Linked DNA regions of Homo sapiens: region 2 is linked to region 1. The links come from fine-mapping of genetic effects on gene expression. Tissue or cell type: whole blood. Region 1 holds a variant in brackets; the other region holds the start of a gene. All regions are shown on one strand. Distances are from middle to middle. Region 1 overlaps SLC8A1 (solute carrier family 8 member A1). Region 2 holds the start of SLC8A1 (solute carrier family 8 member A1).

Region 1 (8,337 bases):
GAATCTCTGACAGATGCTTTCTCATTTGGGTCCCTGGGCTGTTTGTGACTTTACATTCCTTATTTCATTTTTAAAAGTCATTTTTCAAAATGTTTTGTCAAATATATAGATGATAGATAAATAGAGAGATAGAGTCTGTTTCTTGATAAGCCACACTGACAAATTTTGCAAACATCAGAATCTGTTGCTTCTTCCTAGGCCAAGGGAAGTGTGTCATTTATCAATCAAACTGGGTAGTAGCAGTTGAAGAAGAGCTGTAACTGTCATCCTAGCATAGTTTATAACAGCAGAAGATTCAAAACAAGCTAAATATCAATATGGGGATGGTTATGAAAATCACAAGGAAATACTATACAGCCATTTTAAAAGAATGTTTCAAATGAATAATTATTTACAAAAAGATGTTCACATATTTTATTTCATAAAAGGGACTTTTAAAAATCATATTGACTATTCTATGATTGCATTTTTATAAAAATAAAATATGTACGTAGGAAATTTATTTGAAAATTGTGTTAGTGGGTCACCTTAATGGTATGATAGTGGATATTATTTTCTTCTTTCTGTTTATCCACATATTCTGCTTTTTATAATGAAATTGTATTGCTATTGTAATTCTTTAAGTTACTTAAAATTTAACTACATACAGTAGAAAAACAAATATACCACCAATAACCAGGAACAAGACAGTACCATGACATATGGTGAGGAGTGGATCTAGATATGATACACGCGTTAGTAACATAGGTCAAAAGACTCTGCTGGTAGTGCTGAGAGACTCCTCTAAAAAGCCAGCCAAACTGGAGGCCAGATCAGCAAGAGGAATTGAAGAAGCTGACCAAGACTAGGGAGAAGGGACCAAGGCACGTTGTACTTCTCTTGAGCCTGGAATCAGGTTTGCATTGGAAATAAGCTGGAAAAGAAAAAGTGGCTCCATATTTTAAGAGCTAAAAGACTGTGGGTACTTCTGGGTTACTTTCTTTCAATAACTGCAGAAGAAATGCTGTTTCTCCAAGCTGGCACTGGTGTCAAATGAACAGAGGGTCTCCCCATTCTGTTATTTTCCTGGCAGTTGAAACATCCGTTGGCTCAGCTGTTTAATGTGTAAGTTCAGTGTCCCACAGGCCATTCTCCATAAGGCAGCAGCTACCCAACCATGATAAATTTAGTGTCAGGTCTGCATTCAGAGCACACTGTGTCCCACTTTAAGAAATTGCCCTGGGTCATGTAGCTAGTTGTAGAAGTCTGTGCAAATGCTGGTGATTCCCAGGGAAGAAAGATAATATTTTTCTTTGACCTGGATCTCTGTTTCTATTGATTCTCAGAGTGGTTCTCCTGGTGAGAATCCTTTCCACTTCTGAATGCTTTGTGCCACTTGTCTCAGGGTAGGGCCTGAGTATTGTCACATTTATGAAACTATACATATGTGGTTCTGATATGCAGCTAGCATTCAGAAGACTGATCTGGAACGGTCAGGCTCGGCAAATGTATGTGGATACATAGTAATGATAACATGAAAACTTTCAAGTGCGTAGATGGTTTCACACCCACAATCAGTTGACAGTGCTTCTTGTGTTGATTACCCACCTGTGAAAATGGATTTGCAGCAATTCCTCTTCCCTAGTCCTCACTGTGAGCAATGGAAAACTTAGTTGAGATGAGCTTTGACTATGGAATGAGACAAGCCAATTATTCCATGTTGGAACTGCCTCTGAATTTTATTATCTATAATGCTTGTTTTTATCAACTTAGAAAACTGACCTGAAAGTCATAAGCTAAACCATCAATGGGCACATTAGCTCATGACATGTATACACTAGCAGCTGACAGTGGAATACAATTCAGAAAGAGAGAAAAGGAAGGGGTGGAGTCAGACACCTTCTTGGATATCTACTATGTGCCAGGAATTACTTTAAACACTGTGTATCTGTTCTCATTCAATCCCTACAACAATACTTCACCTTTTTTCTGTTCAATAAAATTAACTGATCCACGGATCCACTCTTTGCACAGAGCACTGAAATATTCTCATCAGCAACTTTCAGTTAAGCAATATTTAGACATTACTTTTCCAGGGCCATGGAAATTGCAGATTTAAACCCTGAAACCTGTCAAACCTTGTGCAAAATGACAAAGCCCACCTCCCCTAACACCGTCCTGAACAGTGGATCCCTGTGGACTAGCTAGAAGACCAACCCAAAAAGTCAGGTCATTATCACTGGAATAATTGTCATTGATACAGCAACTACAGTTTCTCTTGCTGGTTTGCTTCTTTAACTTCTCTTGTTTTTTTTTTTTTTTTTTTTTTTTTTTTTAGTTATTAGAGATGATGGAGGTTAAAAGGATGCTGCTTAACAAAGATAAAAGCTCACTTAGACTAGTAATCTTTTTTTCTTTTTAAAGAAACATAGGATTACAGAAATATTTAATGAATTAATAAGGTACTTCTCAACACATTTTTTTCATTGCCAACTAGTTTTTCCAGGTTATGTACATAATTGAAAAAGTGTTGTGTTGCGTGTTATGCTTTGATGCAGTCTTGTTTTGTAATCCATTGCTTTCAAATTTCTATCATCATCTTCTAATTATCTTAAATTTGCACTGTGCTACTAGAATAGAATGATGGTATTATTACTATTATTACTGGCAGCAGAATTGAAACCTGGAGTATAAGTGGTTTGCAGACCATTCATAGATTCATGTAACCGTAGAGATTCATGGTTGAGTAGTTGAGCACCTGACTTCTATGGGAAAAGCAGCGCTCTTCAAGTTACTGCCTAATTAACAAACACACTTCATGGATTGAGGATTTAAAGGGGAAGAATGGTCATGCTTAGTACAATTGAATGCATATTTGCTACTAATTACATATACCTCACATTTTCTCTTAGAGACCAACTGCTTTAAAAATATTTTATTAAATGTTTTTGTTACCCTGACAGAGATACATTCCTTTAAGGGTGTTTTCAGCAAAACATTCAAGTTTTCAGGAAGTATTATCTTTCTTTCCTTTTACCCCTTTCCCATTTCCATGAAATTAAAAGGAAATGCATAGCCAAGTGTTTTTTCCCAGAAGAAAATAATAAGAAATATGCTGATTTTACAGAACAGTATGAACAGTTATAAGGGTCTATGTAAAAGGCAGCGTGTGTTCATTCTCCATGCATACTATTAGTAAAAATGAATGGACTTTCTCCTCATCTGTTTTTATTTAGAGCAGGACCTTCTTGCATTGAATTTCCTGTGTCAGCTGTGTTCTAATTCTGTAAAGCCTTTGGTTAAGGAACAGCTCTGACTCTATATCCCTATCTTTTCCTTTCCCATGTCTTAATTTTGAGTTCTTATCACTCTGATAATAAGCAGACATTTCTGAAAATCAGAAATCCTGCAGTTCCACTTTAGTTTTTCTTTCTCTTCCACTACCTTTCCTCTCTTAGAACAGTAAATATGTCAGATGGGAACCTAAAGTCAACCTCTGTGCTGTCTTGCTCTGACTTAAATGCTCTCATCCAAGTAGGTGGCATTTCTCATGAGGGGCCAGACAGAGTTATGGAACACCACAAGCAGGGTAGCCTTCGGATTTGACTTGAGAAATTAGGAAGAATCTGGTGGTCCTGACTAAGAGTGCCAGTGATAAAAATCCAGGTGAGCACAGACCATTGTCATAAGAGGGGCCTGCACACAGTTCTAGATAGGTATGTTTACAGGAATTCGTGGTCTGAATAGCAGGGCTAGATCAGATTTGAGATCTGATTTACCTAATACTAGAAAGAATGTAGTCAGTCAGGAGACTCAGGCCGGACTTTTTATTTGATAAAGAAATGAAACTGTTGATGTTGGTTTCTTCAGTAGGATTTCTCTACTTCTTTTAGACTTCTCAAAAGGTTTTTGTTTCTTTAGTTGTTGCTTTTGTTGTTGTTCCCCTACCCTCAGAAGTAAGTAGATTAAGGTAAACTTTTGTCTTAAAGAGCACTGTCTAGTTAGTCCCTGTTTTCTGGACATCAGTGGTCTGTTAAATCTATAATCAGTAGGTGAATTTGTTTACACAGACATGAGCATTTGTGCACATCTTTTGTGGGACTTTGCAGAAAAGAAGAGAGATGTTACCTCCTCAGCTCCAGAATCTTTTACTTCAGTGTCTCATTTCCTCTCTGGGATTGGGGTAGAGTTCTTGGCACAGAAGATGCTAACAACTGACTTTCTGGGAGTCTTTGCACAAATGACAACTTCTGTGGCCTTCAACTTCCCCAAGCTAGCATGATGGGTAGATTAATATGTTCCTTTTTGGCAGGAATGGGAACTAATTTTTTTTTAAAGAAGGAGGAAAAAACACGTTGTGCTAAATCAGTGATTACTATGGCAACAGGCACTCTATACATGTTAGAAAAAAAGAAGAAAAATGCAATCACAGTTCTCTAAAGAGGAAGATAGCAGAAATAGGTTCACAAACTTTATTTTCAAAAATCAATAAATATGTAGTAGGCATCCACTATATGCTCTGTATAATCTTATCGAAATGTCTAACAGAAACTTGATGATAAAACCAAATCTGCCATTTGCTTGCTACCGCTCTGTTTCAGAAATTCACTCACACACCACACACACACGCACACACACACACTAACAGAAAAACCACAAAGAAATAGTATATACCATATTTTAAATAAAATAGTTAAATTTCAGTGCCCTGATGAATCCACGTTAGAAAAAGCAAATATCTTACTAGCTTATTGGGCAGAAATACCCAAGTTAGAACAAATTACTCTCCCTAGAATGGCTGTATTCACCCCCCACCCCACAAAATGCAGGTGTTTGC[G/A]TAACATGTTGCAACCGTGTTGGACACATAGTTCTTAATGTTAGTGCAGGGTTTCTCAACTTAAGCTCACTTAGACTAGTAACCTTTTTTTAAGCTCCGTTGACATTTTAGCCCAGGTCATTCTTCTTTGTGGGGGGCTGTCCTGTGCACTACTGTAGGATGTTTAGCAGCATTCCTGAGCCCTACACAAAATGTCAGTAGCATCCCCCAGACTGCCACAAGCAAAACTGTCTTCAGTCATTGACACATGTCACCTAAGGGGCAAGTCACCACTGGTTTAGAGCTACTGGTTTCAAGTAACCCAGCTGTGTTCTCAGGGCTTGTGGTGGGGTATTTGAAATAACCCATTGCCATGAAAAGGGTAATAGGCATAAAAATAAAAGCTGAACTTTATAATATTTTGGTTGATTGGGTGATTTAGGTTATGACTATTAGTGATTTTGCCAGTTTGGCTCTTTTATGACAGATCCTGTTATATAAATAAAATCACTAATTTTCCAACTGTAGTATCTAATTGTTACAAGCTGAATTTTGGCAAATCAAATGACACAAGGATAATATTCCAATTCTTTATTTTTTCACATTACACAGTTATCCCCCTAATTAGTTTTGCTGGGAGCACCCTCATATGGGTTTATATGGAATTGGAAACAATGTTGGTAAATTAGAGAGTACATTCAAAATTATGACTACACAGTGGAAATAAGAATGTAATAATCTTTTACAGCAAAGGCTGTACAGATTGTTTTAAAGGATTAAAGAAACAGTGAACTAAGGGATGACAGAAAATCATTTGGAACATAGCAATTCCACCCTTGAACCTGTAAATATCACATTATAAATTTTATATGTGAGATTTTCATTGTATTATACTACCAGATAAAGCAACCATAAACATAGATTGCTAAGTTTCTTAATGCACATGCTTTGAGAAATGACCTCAAAGCACAACTGGATAGCTGTTGGGATTTTTTTCCTAAGTAATACAGAGCTGTGAGGTTTGAAGTGTGTTCTAATCATTGTACTTTCGGAATTTTCAGAAAAAAATAGAGGTGATGCTAACTTGTATGTTTTGGATTTTGTAACTTTGTTCTTGACATGTTATAACTCTGTAAAACGGAGCTATAAAATAGATTAGACAGTTTACATATTTTTTAAAATCTGAATGAGTTCATATAGTTCAGCTAAAGATGAAACACTGATAAAATTCAGTCAGTATCACTATTGATTTGACAACATTTCTCCTGCTCCTCTTTTGTCTGCTGACTCCTGCCAGCAAAATAAAGTAGATTTACTAGTACACTATAATCTTTAGAGTTCTTACAAGGCACAAACAGTAAGTATTTAACTCTATGCAGGGTAAGAAGAAGTGAAGTGAGTAAAAAGTAGTGTAATCTGTCCCACTTTAACGTAAACATTAATGTAAATATTAATGCTGAAAGCCCTCCTTTGCTCCACAAATCATAACCATGATTTTTTATTGTCCTCTTCTCCGTTTTCTTTTTTCCGGTACTGTGATCATTGGCATTTCATTACTAACAAACAAGAGGGAATGTGAAGAAGGCAATTTAAAGGTTATATCAAGGAATACAAAATCTTGGAAGGCTGTGGAACTTTCAAAGATATTTTTAGTAAAAGCACACAGCAAATTGGTAGATCTTCAGCAATTAGCACTTACCCATGACAATTGATACCAGCCTGTTATGTCAAGCTGCTTGTGATACCACATAGTATTACTAAGATGCATAGGATGATTTCATTTTGCCCACTTTCATCAATAAATGAGCCTAAATATTTATGTTTCCTAAACTTCCCAAGATATTTCTCTTCCTTTCTTGAAAATCTTTAGGAATAGAGGAAGTTCCTAGCTATTGGTTCTCTGTTGAGTAATGCCTAGTGGGAACGGGTAGATAAGATGGCCTCTTGAGATTTACTCTTATTTAAATGTGATGATAAAGATCTTTAGGTTTTCTTGCTTGCTTGCTTGCTTGCTTGCTTGCTTCCTTTCTCTTTCTTTTTCTTTCTCTTTTCTTTTTCTTTTTCTTTTCTTTCTTTTTTCTTTTCTTTCTTCCTCTCTTCCTTTCTTTTTTCTTTCTTTTATTTTTCATTCTTCCGTTGGTTCATTTGTTCACTCTTTGTTCATTCTCGCTTTCTTTTTTATTTTTCTCCTTCCTTCCTTCTCCTTCCTTCTTATTTTGTTTGTTTGTTTGTTTTTTTAAGAGAAGGCAACCAGCATTTTGCTGTTTCCACTTAAGGACTGAATGAGAAGAAATAAGTCAAATTTGATCATCGATACTTTGTATTTATGCAGAACTAAACAATTCTAGTGACAAAGGACATTTAGTCAGTGGGGCGATATTGGTAGAAATGAAGCCTAGTGACATGAGGCTGAGGGCTCTGCCTGAAAATGTGGAACTTTGGGTTTTGGTCTTTGCGTGATGTGGTTAACACTTTTTGTCTACCTGATTTATTTTGTCATCTGACACGTGAAGGTATTTGGTTTCAGTGCCCCCTAAATTTTCCCTCAGGTTCTATAATTTGAGGGTCTGGGACTAAGAGTTCCAAGTTGTGGATATGGAAGCAGAATGATTGCTCCAGGGGCTCTTCTAGTCTCAGAAGACTTTGAAGTAAAGACTCTAGGAAAGAAAGAGCATGAAAGTCATAATGCTCTTATAAATTTTTAGGGATTTACAGGAGAAGTATTTATGGTTCCTGTCAAATTCCTTATGGCTCTATGATTACTTCACATTGAATGGAGGGAGAGAAATTCAGCTGTAATCTCCTAGTTTGCCACCAGCCAGAACAATTGGATTTTCTTCAAATAGGAGATTAGAGCTTCCAGAAAGTATTTCTAGTTCCATATGCTGCTTTCTTTTAAAAGGACACTTATTCCTATTTATTCAAATCCCTTTATGTCCCACGAACATCACTTTCCCTTTCTGAGTAGCAAATAAACTGCTTTTCTTCAAAGTCTTTCTCCCAGAATGGAATTACTTAATTATTTGTGAGTGTGCATATGTACACACACACATACACACAGACATATGTGTGTGTGTAATATATATACACACACGCATCTACATATATATTTATATATATATATATTTTAAGGAGAATAGAATGCTCAACAGGAAGGATTAGTAGAGAAGCATACTTTAAGAGCAATATTTTTCAAGTTAGAAAAAATCCAAAGGTAATAAAAGCAACTTTCATAAAATGGTTGATCTTGTCAGTAATCTTTCTAGAAACATCTCCACAGCATGTTAAACTGCCTCCAAATATATCCACAAAGAGCCATGCGGTAGCTCCCATATTTATTGTTTGCCCTTTCAGGCAATTTGCTACCTGAGAATAGAAATGCCAAAATAAGATAAAATGTCTATCAAATTGGGTACACAGATCTTTTAAAAAAATTTACTCTACATTTTCTTAAGCTCACTTGGAGTGATTGGACAAAAGTGTTCAGATTGAAATGGATGCAGTCCCCTGATGTTAAAATGTTGCTGGGACAAAAGTTACAT
Region 2 (8,337 bases), 58 kb before region 1:
AAAGTACTCTCTTGATGTAGAAATGTATATTTTTCTGGATTATTCATTGCATAGAACTCTGTATAACAAAAACAACAGCATAATCAATATCAATAATTGGATGACCTGATTATGTAGAATCTAATTATATAGAAATTTTAAAATTTACATTGACATCATGTTTATGAAACTTTACCAGTAATAATAACAGCAATATCGTTTGCTGAGCAATTACTATGATCAGGAACTATGCCAAGCATCCTATATACATTTTATCCTTCCCACAGCACCTTGAGGGAGAGTTTATGATCCATGTTTTCCAAACAAAGATATTGAGATTTAAGAGGTTAAAAAGCTTCCCCAAGGTCACACAGCTGGATCTGAAAAATCTAACACAGATATTCTGACTCTAAAGCCTTGGCTCTTAACCAATCTGCTATTATTTTCTGACCTCTAAATTAATAGCTCTAGATAATGATTCTGCCATTGAGTTACCATTGATAAAGTTGCAGGACAGAGACTAGATATTTCCTTAATTTAATAAGGGGCAGAAATGAAAAACAGAAGTCTCAGAATTTTGTACAAACCCAATTCTTTTTTTTTTTTTTTTTTTTTTTTGAGACGGAGTCTCGCTCTGTCCACCCAGGCTGGAGTGCAGTGGTGTGATCTCTGCTCACTGCAAGCTCCGCCTCCTGGGTTCACGCCATTCTCCTGCCTCAGCCTCCCAAGTAGCTGGGACTACAGGTGCCCGCCACCACGCCCGGCTAATTTTTTGTATTTTTAGTAGAGACGGGATTTCACCATGTTAGCCAGGATGGTCTCGATCTCCTGACCTCGTGATCCACCCGCCTCAACCTCCCAAAGTGCTGGGATTACAGGCGTGAGCCACCGCGCCCAGCCCAAACCCAATTCTTTAATATCAGTTGCTCAAATGTAGAATTGCAGGTCCCTGATGTCCAAAGACTGTGACAAATTCATTGGCGACTCAGAGGAAGTGGTTGACCCCACGGTAATGCAGAGAGGAGGAGAGTTGTGACTGTGAGTCTGCCAGGAAGGCTGCCCCAGTCTGTGGACTGTTGTGCAGTAGCAGGGTTTACAACTGGGTGAGGTACAAGAGTGGTGTTCAGTTGGTCAAAACAAAACAGAGAAGTAAAAGTTTAACTGCAGGAACAAGTCTCCAGGGAAGAGGAACAACAGCACTTAGAAGTCAACAAAGAATTCTCAAAGTCATCCCCAAAGCAAAGAACCCTGGATCTACTCATCAGCAAAGAAAACCTAAAGAACAAAACTGGGAACCCAATGGTTCACCTGAGATTCTTAGGTATGGAAAAATGGCTAATTCTAAGCTCCACTCACTGGCCAGGCTAGGGGCTATTATGTAATAACATTTTCTTATGTAGAAATCACTATGAAACTGAGCCTGTGACTGAACAGATAGGTGATTAGTGAAGGCTGGCAGAGTAAGAAATGAGGTGAGGGACGACTAAGACTGTATTAACATATTTCAGAAGCCCGAAGCAATGGAAGAGACAATAGAGGTACCTCTGATTTATGTAATTCAAAGTAAAAATGAAAGGAATTTAAACAGAGTATTGTGCTTGTTTTCCCTATGATGAAAACATATTGAGTGCTTTAGTAAAGTATTAAATATTTTTAAAAATCTTGGTAACCTGATCACATGTCTAAATTTTCTATAGACTAGATAAAAAGTAGGGCCTAATTCACAATATTTACACTTGGTCTGAAAATGAGTTTGCTAACAGATCCCCTGAAGGTTTCCTAGGAAATAGTTTGTGAACATCAGAACATCTTTCGAATATATCAAATCTTAGTGATATCCCTGTGGAGTCCCCTGAATGGTTGTGTCGTATTGCTTTGGTTAGATAACAGTGGAGACCCGGTGACTCTTAATTCCAAGTCCAGAGGAAAGAATGGCAATCAATATGGAAGACTGCAATTAAGAAACATTACTGCTATTAGAATGTAAATTACCACCTTCCTCCATTCAACATGTCTTCTTTCCAAAGCCACAGACTGCAGCAGCCTCACTTTTTCCTTTCTTAGAGCCATAGTCTTCCTCAGCCTTGTGCCTGTGATGCAGCCTTTGATAATTCTCGCAATAAAAACTCACTCATGTATGACATTTAGGAGGGAGCAAAAGGTTTGATTTGCCTTGGGGCCCTGGAACCATTATAAAAATGCCTTTAAAGAGAAATGAAAGGCAAAGAAAATTAGGGGCTCAGAAACTGACTGAACCAAAAAGGATGCCAAATCACTAGGCACTAGGCTGCCTCTCCAATAGTTCTAGATAAACAGAAGACCATTTAATATTGTTTTTTTCCCAAGAATCCAAATCAGTCTAAAAGCAGTTTCGATTGGAAAAGAGGAAGAATCAAGTGGCCAAGATGTAGCCTTTCAGTTTCAATGGTCAAAGCAAAAAAAAAAAAAAAAAAAGTCTTAAGACAGACTTTGGGCATCACTGGAGTATAAACATTTAAAGAACAGGGTTCTTGTCACTCCATGTCACAAACATGCCTAAAATTTCAAGAAAATCTCAGCTTTCACTAAGCGGCCCGTCATAGCAATAAGAGGCTACACTCTTTCCACAAAATCTATTCCAGTGAAATATGGCCCACTCACATTTTCATTTAGCTTTCTCTTGGTTCCTTCATTTGGCTGTGTTCTATTTCCTATTGAGTGGAGTCTTTAGTTATAAGCTTTCCTTAGTGTTATTTAGAAGGCAGCCACTTTTCTCTCCAAGCCCCTTTCATTGAGTGTGAGCCAAATATCTGCTACTCACACTGCCTTAAATTCAGGGACTCTAAGTAATTTTTGGTAGAGGACATATTCTAAAAGAGACAGTGACCTTCTGTCTCTCCCCACAGGTCATTCTGTTTATATCCACTAGTAAGTGTAGTCTAACCAAGTTGGTGTGGAAAGTAGCTTCCAAGAAAATTTAACTTATAGCAAGGAAAGAAAAATGTTCTTAGGCAAGAACGATTCCTGCAAATTTTATAAGACGTGAAGCAGCTTAGAGTGTCCTCTACAAAGCCAGTATCCAAGACTGCTGGCAACAGACCCGACTAATTAAAGTGAGGTCCTCATTCAGACGGCCTCAGCATCACTTCAACACTTGCCTACCCCAGGCCTGCTCCAGGTCTATTGAAAAAGAATCTGCAATCCCCATGTGATTCATACTCACATTCATGTTTGAGGAGTATTGGCCTAGAGCAGTGGTTCTCAACCTTCATTGCACATAGGAATCAACCAGGCATCTTAAAAACAAATTAAGGCTGTCTGGGGCCCACCTGCAGAGAGTCAAAGTTAATCAGTTTGGGGGTGTGGCCTAAGCACTGGGATTTTTAAAAACGGCCCAGGAGATTCTGAGGTGCAAGGAGGGTTGAGAGCCACTGGCACAGGGGCAGAAGAGGCTATTTCTTCCATTCCGCCCCCTCTTTGTTGCGGAGGCAAACTGAGGTTCCTGGAGTCAGAATCTATCAGTCGTGGTGACTGCCCTGGTTGCACTGTAAGTATGGGGGGACGTCTCCACGAAAAAAAACTAACTTTCTGCCTTGTGCTCTGCAGGTCCCTCCTTCTCCCACCTTCCCCAAGTAGCTGCTCCTGACCCCCCCACACACCTTGGCAAACGACACCAGTGGCCGATAGCAACTGGTGTTTTAAAAATACTAATTTGGAGCCCCATTTGAGACCTACAACGGGAGAGTCTGCATCAGATTCGGCCTCAGATTCTACAGCATCTGACTACATTCCCAGGTGTGTGTGATGCGCAGCCAGGTTTGGAAGCTAGTGAACTCCACAGTAGGTCTAGCCTTTCACCACGTGAAGTCATTAAGGGTTTGTAAGAATGAATGAGCTGTCAAGAGAGGAAAGGCCTGGTGCAGTGTTCCTTTATTAATTATGAGGAAAGTGATTTATTGGCAATGATAATGCTTCTCTTGGAAAGGGCAAAGAATGGTTCGTCGATTGCTGCATTAGGTTTTTTCCCACTCAACCTTAATGCTCGGCTTTTACTCCTCACTGTAGTTTAAAACCAGCACGCCTTTCACACGAAACAGACTCTGGGTCTTTATTCCCAGGTGAAACGCATCTTTGAGGGAAATACCAACACAGAGACTCTGTCCCAGTTCTTGGCCGGGGGACACCCTCCCCCGAATATCTCTGTTTGCTTGTGTCAGCATCTAGTAGCCAACGTATAGTTGTGCATATCTGATACGTAGAAAAACACAGGGTGAGGATTAAAAAAAAAATCATTGATATATGCCCAGATCCTTTTGCTAAAAGAAAGCTTCCTTTAGCAGAAGGGCAGGAAGTGAGGGAAGAAAGATAGTTGGATTAACAAAGTCAGAGGTGAGAAACGGGTAGGCGAATTGGGGGTCAGGGTTCTGTCTGCGGAAGAGAAGAAGAGGGTTCAAAAGAAAAGTTGCAGCGCCTGTGTGCGCGTGTCATCGATGGGCTGGGTGCGAGAGACAGCGCTAGCGCGCGGCCACAACGCACTGCGGGGCCGAGAGCCGGCAGGAAATCGAAAAAGCTGCTCGCCGGCAGAGGCTGGGAGGCTGGAAGGGCTCCCCACCCGCTCGGTGCTCCAGAAACGCGCCGGCTTTGCCCCGACGCGATCGCCTGGGGAGCCCAAGGGGCGCGCAGGGGGCCCCGGGGCGCCCGGCAGCCGCGGGGCCGAGCGCGCGTGTGAGCGAGTGCGAGGCTGCGGGCGGCGGGCGGGCGAGTGTGCGCGGGAGGGAGGGGGAGCGCGCGCGCGCCCGGGCCCCGGCCCTCCCAGCCTCCCGGCCTCCGCGCCTGCCTCCCGCCCGCGCGCACCGCTGCCCGCTGCCGCGGCTCCCGCTCGCGCCGGCGCTGCACGGTAGTCAGCCCGCCGCCGCCGCCTGCTTTGTGCTTCCCACAGAAGATGGGAGCGACCTCTTCCTGATCGGGAGCTGTTTAAAAGGAGGGAGTGCGCCGTATTTTCTACTAGCGTGGAGGAACGGAGGAAGAATCCATTCACACTCCCCAAACCAGGTAGGATCTTATGATGGACAGGCAGAAGGCATTTAGTCAGAGACCAAGAACTATTTTCCATTTGCTGCTCATAAGGCTACACTTCCCTCTGCTTTGGCAAACGAGCGGCTTCTAAATTTGTGTGTGTGTGTGTGTGTGTGTGTGTGTGTGTGTGTGTGTGTGTGTGATGTGGTGTGTGCGCGCCTGCACATTTTTCTGGGTGTCCGCGCTTCCCAGAGTGAAATTGCTCGGGCTGGTGCGTCTGGGCGTGAGGGTGCCTGCCTGCCTGCCAGTGCAGGCTGCCGGAGGAAGAAAGGGCTGCTAAGGAGAGATGCTGCACCCTGCACCGCGCTGGGCTCTGAGGATTCAGGGCGCGAAGAGCTAAGTCCACCCCGAATGCAGAGCTGCTGGGGATCCAGGCGTCCCCACCCACTGGACTCTTCTCCGCGGACATCCCTCCTTCCGGTAATCCCTGGGGTCTTTCCCCAAGGCCACATTTCCGAGCCCCCTGTTTTCCAGCGGGCGTTGGGTGCTCATTCACCACGGACTGCGGAGAGGAGGGAGGTGTGGCGGGGCAGAGACAGACGAGGAAGAAATGTAGGGGGTAGCAGGGAGTGGGCTGCGGGGTCCACGTCTCTGGGCACTGTGCCGTGGTGTGCTTTGGGGATTCTGCACACACAGGCATCTTTCCCCAAGAGATTGGAAGGGAACTTTGCAGCTGCATTCTCTGCCTCTGGAGCTTTGCTGGCTCTTGGGGGAAATGGTCTGTGTTCTGAGATGTGAAGATATCCTTTTTGGCTCCTCCTTAATGAAGAAGAGGGCGGTCTTATAGCTGGACAGCCGGCCAAAGAAACCAAATCCGCCCAGGCGATGCTCTTGAAAATACAGTACGTGTGCATCCTTGATTCTTTAAATCCACCCCCTGCATCACCCCCGCCTCTTCTCTATCCCCCCCACCACCCCGTGGATTCTGTTGCTGTTTGATGAATGGCTTGGGCTGGCAATTTGTATTTCCCTCTCCAAAGTGGTAGTGGTTGAGTTGAGAACAGGGGTGATGAAATTTAACAAAGCATTTTTAGAAGAGAGCAATGTGCATGTTGTACGCAGTCATTGGAAAGTCATGCTTTGCGCTAGGTATCCTTTTGAAGCCCCCGAACCTGGCTCTCCTGAAGCCGCTCTCTCTCTCTCCTGCTAGTCAGCTACTAGTGGTTGTGAATATAACAATACAAACTTTGTCCTGCTGGAGGTGTAAAGACTAAAAAGAGAAAAAAAGGATATCAGTGGGAGGTGTAGTGGAAGAAGCTTTTTAAAAAATGACAGATGTGGTGAAGACAGTACAAGCGTCCTGATCATGGAGGAGCCTCTAGCTGAGTAGGTGGAGATTTCTGATCAGATCTGGTTAAAGGCATTGCTGGAGTATCTCCAGATATGAGCAGTTGAACATGCACAATCTGAGACTTGTGCGAAGATTTCCCAAGGGAAAGAGGGAGCCACCAGGAGAGAATTCTGAAAGTATACCTCTCTTTCCCATGCCCCCACCAGCGCGCGCGCGTGCACACACACACACACACACTCACATGCTTTCTCTTTCTCTCTCAAAGCTACTCCTGCAGCGAGTCAGAAAAAAAAAGGAAAATGAATCTAGATGTTTCATTCATTTCAAATAAGAAGACAAAGCCGGAAGAGGGATGATTGGTTTTAGGTTCCTCTTTCAAATCCTGTGTTACTTGGATTGAGCTCCCTGGGTTTGCTAAACTTGCTTAATTGGGAGGTTAGGCGGGTGTGAAAGCAGGAGGAAGGAAGGGAAAACTAGCTCCATCTTTGGGGCCTTGTGAGTGAGAAGGTGGGGGAGGACCAACTTATTTCATCAAGAGGCAAGATGTGTGCTCTTAAATGGTTTTCGTTTTACAAATTCTGCCTGCTTGAAGAATTCCATTTGGATCTCACGGCTCTTTAGCTAAGATTTCTCACACCTGCTATAAAAGAAGCCCTGATTTTGTCCCCTTAAAATGGTTGTTGTCTTTTTTTAAAAAAATGATTAATTCCTAGAAAAACAACAGCAACAAAAAGGACTGAACAGAGATAAACCATTATTTATTGTTGAGCTGTATAGGGCTACAAAGGATGTAAGAGTGTCATGATAATCAGACTTTACTGTCTTGAAAGCTTAACAGGGCTGAAGGAGGAGAGTAATGAACTAAAATATGAAGGCTTATTTTCTATGTATCTATCTACCTATGTCTTTACTTTAATATTATTATATAGTGGTTCCTACTGTAACGTTTCAGATTAAGCACATAGCCCTTTTGTTGACCAGGGGAAGAAAAGAGCATGGGAGTAACAGTGCTTTGACTCCCAATAAAATTACAAATGGAAAGTGAGGTATAGTCAGTAACATCTATAGGACTATTTGCAGGAATTATGTTAATTGCTCTGTTAAGCTTTCTGTGTTTTGAAAAAATAAAATATATTCCAAGAGAACTTCAGCATCTGTTAAAAAGCTATGTTTAACATGCTTTTGCCAGGCAAATATAGACTTTTATTTACTTGCAAAATAAACACATGATTCCTCTTAGTATTCAATCTATTTCTTTGACAAAATAAATGATGAGAAAAGCTGTGCAGATCCAAGGAAGTTGCAATTCCCCTTTAAAAAGCCAGCCAAGGCATTCATTTAGCTCATAGATGTGGTTGTCTCAAAGTAAGTGCATTTTGGGACATTAATGTCTGTGTGTTTTTTTTTGTTGTTGTTTTTTGTTTTTTGTTTTTTTTTTTTAATGTTGCAATTCAGTGAGACAAGTTCTTTCTTTGTGATGCCTTTTAGGTACAGGGAGGATAGTATATAGATAAGAAGGAGACTGCCCTAAAAATATGGCAATAAACAAAATTCAAACTGAAATATAAATTAGATCTGGAAAAAGAAATGCAGCCTCTAGAAGAGGCTGTTAGAGCACATATGTTGCATGTTTTATATTTTCGTAGTATGTTGCTTTCAAGTAAACATTAAATTGTCACTTTATATTTGCTAAGAATTTAGGAATCAACATGCTATTATCTCTCTACTCTTCCTGGTCCCTTTATCTTTTTGTTTTTGCCCCCAAGGATAAATGTGTTTTGCTAAAATATTATCCAAATATCACCCATACTTGTAGTTAAATCCTTCATCATAACCTCCCATACCTCATACACCCCTCATCATAACCCCTACCAAATGGTCTCCCATCTGACCAAATTCTACTGCTCCCTCTTGTGGCAAACGTTCTGCCTGACTTTCTCTGGGTTCCAGAATCCTATCTGACATCACTTATGGTTCCCTTAGCTGTCTATCACTTTGGCTCTAATTCTTGG

What was found. PIP is the estimated chance that this variant, and not a neighbour inherited with it, causes the effect.
Region 2: it holds the start of SLC8A1, and the variant in region 1 is fine-mapped to the expression of SLC8A1 in whole blood (INTERVAL, PIP above 0.99). The same link has a PIP of 0.9 or more in neutrophils.

Annotation. Positions count from the first base shown.
Region 1 is chr2:40,390,727-40,399,063 of GRCh38, reverse strand. All of the region lies in intron 2 of SLC8A1 (solute carrier family 8 member A1), which reads left to right. It also overlaps the pseudogene LOC124905995. Among named protein-coding and RNA genes, the nearest start is that of SLC8A1, 57 kb to the left of the region's middle. The variant G/A (reference allele first, on the strand shown) is at 4,817.
Region 2 is chr2:40,448,577-40,456,913 of GRCh38, reverse strand. It overlaps SLC8A1 (solute carrier family 8 member A1), which reads left to right and starts at 4,824. Exons shown (of 11, transcript NM_021097.5): 1 at 4,824-5,010.